Linked DNA regions of Homo sapiens: region 1 is linked to region 2. The links come from fine-mapping of genetic effects on gene expression. A gene starts in region 2. The other region holds a variant in brackets. All regions are shown on one strand. Distances are from middle to middle.

What was found.
Region 1: its variant is fine-mapped to the expression of GLIS3-AS1 in atrial appendage (GTEx, PIP above 0.99).

The regions. Positions count from the first base shown.
Region 1 is chr9:4,762,455-4,765,374 of GRCh38, forward strand. No RefSeq gene overlaps it. Among named protein-coding and RNA genes, the nearest start is that of AK3, 23 kb to the left of the region's middle. RefSeq lists an enhancer at 475-1,413. The variant G/C (reference allele first, on the strand shown) is at 1,072.
Region 2 is chr9:3,897,355-3,900,274 of GRCh38, forward strand. GLIS3-AS1 (GLIS3 antisense RNA 1) reads left to right here and starts at 1,292. Exons shown (of 2, transcript NR_026663.1): 1 at 1,292-1,605. It overlaps GLIS3 (GLIS family zinc finger 3), which reads right to left. Exons shown (of 11, transcript NM_001042413.2): 7 at 1,337-1,481.

The sequences.
Region 1 (2,920 bases), 870 kb after region 2:
GTGAAACCCCGTCTCTACTATAAATACAAAAAATTAGCTGGGCGTGGTGGCACACGCCTGTAGTCCCAGATACTCAGGAACCTGAGGCAGGAGACTCGCTTGAACCCGGGAGGCGGTGGTTGCAGGGAGCCGAGATCATGCCACTGCACTCCAGCCTTGGCGACAGAGCGAGACTCCATCACACACACACACACACAAAAAGGTGAAATGAGCAGCATAACGTTGGAATGACAGGTGACTATTTCCTGCCAAGATTCCAGTTGCCATCAGGTGGCGCTGTGTCAACAACAAATGCTTTTACCTGAAGCGAGGAGGAAGTTTGGTTGATTTACTCGAATTCAAGCCTCAAATACTACATAACTGAATTTATTTTTTCTTACTCCGTTTGTTTGCAATTGTCCCACTTGTATGAATACATTGATTTTTTTTTCTCACCTGGCCCAGAACAAAGCTGAGTAAATTGATTTCTTAAGGCATGAAGCCTTAGACAAGAAAAGCCGTGGAAGGAGGCTGGTGGCAGCAGACAGCTGGGCAGGTCATGAAGGTCAGGGGAAGGAAATTAGCAATTACCCTTATTTCCATCTTCAGTGAGGAAAACCTGCTCCCCACCAGCACTGCCTGTTGTGAAATTACCCAAGCATTCAAATGAATATGTCATTTCGCGAGGGTGGAGCCATCCTGTAATTTCTGTCATCCAGTTCCCTTTACGGGTTGTTAAATGTCTACGTGAGTAACCCTTGAATGTCGTTGCTCTCACAAACCAAAGTCTGGAAGCCCGAGTCTTTCTTCTGGGTTGAGTACTTTATTCTTCTGAGGTGTGGGAACTGAGGCACAGCAAAGGCCTGAGGCCCCACGGGCAACTCTTTCTCCCCCTCCTCCCTCCCCTCCGCGCAGGGCATCCCCGTGCACAGAACTGATAGAGCTGGCCTGGCTACTGGCAGACTATCAGGCCAGGCCAGAGCTGGAGGCTGAGCTGGTTTCCTCCGGGCAGGACAGAGCTTTCAGGCAGCGACCTCCTAGGAGGAAGGCGGGGGGAGGGTTTGCAGCCTTCCCTACTCTGGGCAGACAGAG[G/C]AATGTGGTGGACAGGAAAAAGGGGGAGGAGGCAGGACCTCTACTCTCAGCATAGACCCAGTCTCACTGAAGAGGCACTCTTTAAAGGCATCACAGAGTTTAAGAATAGTGCATGGTAGAAATAACTCTTAATTTCTGAATGACCAAGTATAAATGAAATGGAAGTGCTTAAAAGTAATAAGAGAAAAGCTATATAGTTCCTCTTTTCCTTCCTTGAAAAATCAGGTGCAAAAGTCATCAGGTGCAGGGTCGAGCAAGATAGGCAGCTATGAGTGGGGTGGAGGTGAGCTGTGGTGGCCGGAACCTGACCAGGATCAGAAAGCATACATTCAGGGGCAAGTCCAGGCCAGAGTGTCAGAACCCAATTGTGGTGAGGGGTGTCCCGGCAGAGAGGCAGTCTGCCACAGGGTGTTGGAGTCCCAGTGGGGAGAGAAAGGTATCTCCAAGGACATGTATGTAAATGTACAATATTAAGGATAATGGGAGCAAAGTTTCTCGCTGTTGGAGAAGACAGTTAACAAATCATTCCTGTAATCCCACCACATTAAGAGGCTGAGGCAGAAGGATTGTTTGAGGCCAGGAGTTTGAGACCAGCCTGGTCAACATAGCGAGATCCCGTCTCCACAGAAATTAAGAAAACATTAGCCAGGTGTGGTGGCATGCACCTGTATGCCATCTCAAGGAAAGAGGCTGAGGTGTGAGAATCACTTGAGCCCAGGAGATTGAGGCTGTACTACAGCCTGGGCAACTGAGCAAGACCCCATCTCAAAAAAATAAATTATGGACAGAAAACTAGAATGAAAACTGTGTTAGGTTGGAATGAGAAGTATTGGTATGAAGTCATGGTTTTCAATAAACAAACTAATAAGATCCATATTTTATTACGTATGTAGAGAAATATAAGGGTAAATGCATGTATGATTTTGTGTATGTGTGTACACACATCCTTATATTCCCTACTTCTGTGCCCTGAGAGGGCCTGAGATCAATGATGCCCAATACTGGTTTCTATTTATTTTATTTTTAAAAAATAGAGATGGAGTCAGGCTGGGCATGGTGGCTCATGCCTGTAATCCCAGCACTTTGGGAGGCCAAGGTGGGCAGATCACGAGGTCAGGAGTTCGAGACCAGCCTGGCCAACATGGTGAAACCCCGTCTCTACTAAAAATACAAAAAATTAGCTGGGAGTGCTGGCACGTGCTTGTAATCCCAGCTAATCGGGAGGCTGAAGCAGGAGAATAACTTGATCCCAGGAGGTGGAAGTTGCAGTGAGTGGAGATCATGCCATTGCACTCCAGCCTGGGTGACAGAGCAAGAACCTGTCTCAAAAAACAGAGATGGAGACTTGTTATGTTGGCCAAGTTGGTCTTGAACTCCTGGCCTCAAGCAGTCCTCCCATCTCAGCCTCCCAAAGTGGTGGGATTACAGACATAAGCCACTGTGCCTGGTCCCAAGTCTGGTTTCTCTTTCTGTTTTTTTTTTTTTTTTTTTTTTTTTTTGAGACGGAGTCTCACTTTGTCGCCAGGCTGGAGTACAGTGGCACAATGTCGGCACACTGCAAGCTCCGCCTCCTGGGTTCAAGCGATTCTCCTGCCTTAGCCTCCTGAGTAGCTGGGACTACAGAAGCGCACCACCATGCCCAGCTAATTTTTGTAATTTTAGTAGAGACGGGGTTTTACCATGTTGGCCAGATGGTCTCGATCTCTTCACCTCGTGATCCGCCCTCCTCGGCCTTCCAAAGTGCTGGGATTACAGGCATGAGCCACTGTGCCCAGCCATGGTTTCTGTTTTTTGTGTGTGTGGTTTTTTTTTGTTTTTGAGACAGAGTCTCACTCTGTCACCCAGGCTG
Region 2 (2,920 bases):
TAATGTGCTGAAATAAATGTTCATATATCAAATACTGAACAAATCAGACACACAAAAACAAAAGCTAGTCATGGTTTTTCATATATATATATATATTTAATACAAAATATTTATGTATGTGTTGGTAACACTGCACATTGATATATTTGATGTCTGTATATGAACCTGTACCTGAAACCTCTGTAAGTTTGGTCAACCCTTCTTCGTCTCATCTCCCTGTGTCTCAAAAAGCAGAGGCTATGTTGTCCCCAACAGTAAGTGCTTAAAGCAACTGATAAAGGTCCAATGGGCCATGATTAAGGCCCAGTTTTGATGACTGATGCTCTTGCAATACTTGCTTACTGCCCTTTCTCTCTGCATCTGAATCAACTGAGAACTGTCAAATTTAAAACGTTGTACAAGGATGTCTTTCTCCCATTCCACTGCAATGCATCTGTAAATTTTAAATTCTAATGGCTTATTCATACTTTTCGAAAGAAAAAAACAGTCTGCTGCCAAACCTGGCTCTGGAATCAGATGGGGGTGGGGGTAGTATCTGCAACCCACAGAAAATAGAAAATTCTCATTGTCTGGAATGTGGAGCTGGTAAATCTTTTTTCTCATCTTCATAGCATGACTGTAAGAGTGTTCCATATGTAAGGACAATCACTAATTATGTTTGCATAAGTATATCACCATTACAGAGAGTAGAAAATGCATAAAAATCCAGGCTGAGTAAAAGAAAAATAACTTCCTTATGGTATATTAATCTTTTCTTATTTTTTTTGTTTTTTACTACATACATGTAATTTTCCAAATATAGTCACCTATTATTCAAACCTAGGCAGATGGAAGGTGGTCTGGGAGTGTCATCCCATCTCCTTTCCCACAATGGTTGGCAAACATGAATGAACATTCTTATAAGTTGGTTTGCTGATGTGAAAATTTCCTTAGAGACCTGGGGCTTCCTTTTAAAACATAAAGATGACAACAACTGTTTCATTAAGAAATCCACACGCAGCCTGCTACCTGCTTAAGGAGGAAACATTTCCTTCGAGTCTAAATCAAGTGAGTAAATGTAACATAACTGCGAGGGTTGGGTACACTGAATTTCTGGCAGAAGTCCATAACTAAAAGAGGTAATGCATTATTTTATTTTATTTCTTTATGAGAAAAAACAATCTGCTGCCACACCCAGCTCAGGAATCAGAAGGGGTGGAGAGCAATTTGCAGCCCATTGATAAAGAACAACACAGACGATCTTAGGAAAATTTTTCTCACGTGAGCATTCCTTTTAACCAGAGTAAAAGGCCTAAAAAAGGGTAGTTGTGGTTGGCTCTGCCTTTGCTGTCTTTACCTGAATAGAGGTCAGGCCCGGGTCCAGGGGAGCGTCCCACGGTCCCTTCAGCAGCAGCATCTCTAGGGGAAGTGGCCGGCTGCAGGGACTGCACGGTGAGGCAATCTGTGAGCAGGTCTGGATGGAGCTCTGTGCTGGACCGCAACTAAGAGGACAAAACGGAAGAGACATCGATAAGGAGAGCCGGTCCTTGGAATATTTTCCTGGGAAGGCATCATGCTCTATCAGTGCAACTCAGCCCACAAAAATTTATCAAGCAGCAACTACGGGTAAGGCACAGAGCTTAACAGAGTGTCAATAAAAGGATCAGTTCTCCAATCCTAATAACACCTGGCAAGAGCTTCTGGAAAAATGTGGCTAGAGGCGGATTTGACTTCAGTCCTTGATATTTCCACTTCTGGCAACTCAACTTCCTATTATACTTCCTTTTATTTGCTCCGTATCTTATCAGAACTTGTAACGATAACAACAACAAACTCAAGTAGATTTAGTCCATCTTGGAAAGTGCTTTTAAAATAGAAACACTGTCATGAAAACATCCCAGAGATGATTAAGAAATGCCCATTGAGATTTAACTCCTATAGATTTTCCATGAAAGGAAAATACTCAAGTTAAATTTTAATATATTATGGCATGATTCAAAGATAAAACAATGTGATTAACAGTAACAAAACTCCAACAGTCAGTTACATAAAAACAGAACAATTTAGATCTTATACATTAAAGAGTTACATGTAAAAAAAAAATCAAACAATAAAAAATGCTAAAATAAACTAGGTGAAAAGTTATCTGATCTTTTAATGAATAAGAATTTTTTAAGTGTAATTGAAATGGAAAAAAAAAACAATGTAAGATTTAGTGACATAAAAATATTAACGTTCTGCTTGTACAAAAACATAATACCTTAAAAGCAATCTAGAAATGTATTTGTTACAAATATTGCAAATGGTAATCATCTTTGGTATTTAAAGAGTGTGTGTATAAATGGATTTTATAAAGACAAGACTAAACCTTTAGATATAGAGCTAGAGTATGCTTATGCAGTCAACAAATATTTATTAAGTGTTTGTTACATACTTCTCTAGACCCTAGGAATACTGACTGCTTTTGTCAAAGTTAGACTCTAGATGGGGAAGCAGATGATGAACAAATAAAACATATACAACCTCAGATGGTGATAAATGCTATGGAGAAAAGTGATGCGGAGAAGCGAGACAGTGAGTAGGAATAAGGGGTGGCAGCTTTAGATAGGAGATCAAGGAAAGCCTCTTGAAGATGGCATTTATAAAAAGCTTTGAAAGAAGTGAGGAATAAGCCGTACAGACCTATGGGGGAAGAACCTGCCTACCCTGTGGTTGTGCGGAGAAGTAAGAGTCAAGCAGGGTGAGCCTGGGGCCTGGGGAAGAGAAATAGAAGATGAAACCAGAGATAAAAGGTGGGGAGGTGGAAATGGGAAGGAGACGTTGGATAAAGCCTTGACTTGAACAGAAACTGTTAAAAAAAAAAAAAAAAGGAGAAACAGAAATGATAATAAGCGTGAAAAATGTTTGCACACTTGCAAAGAAGTGCAATGTTAAAACGTCT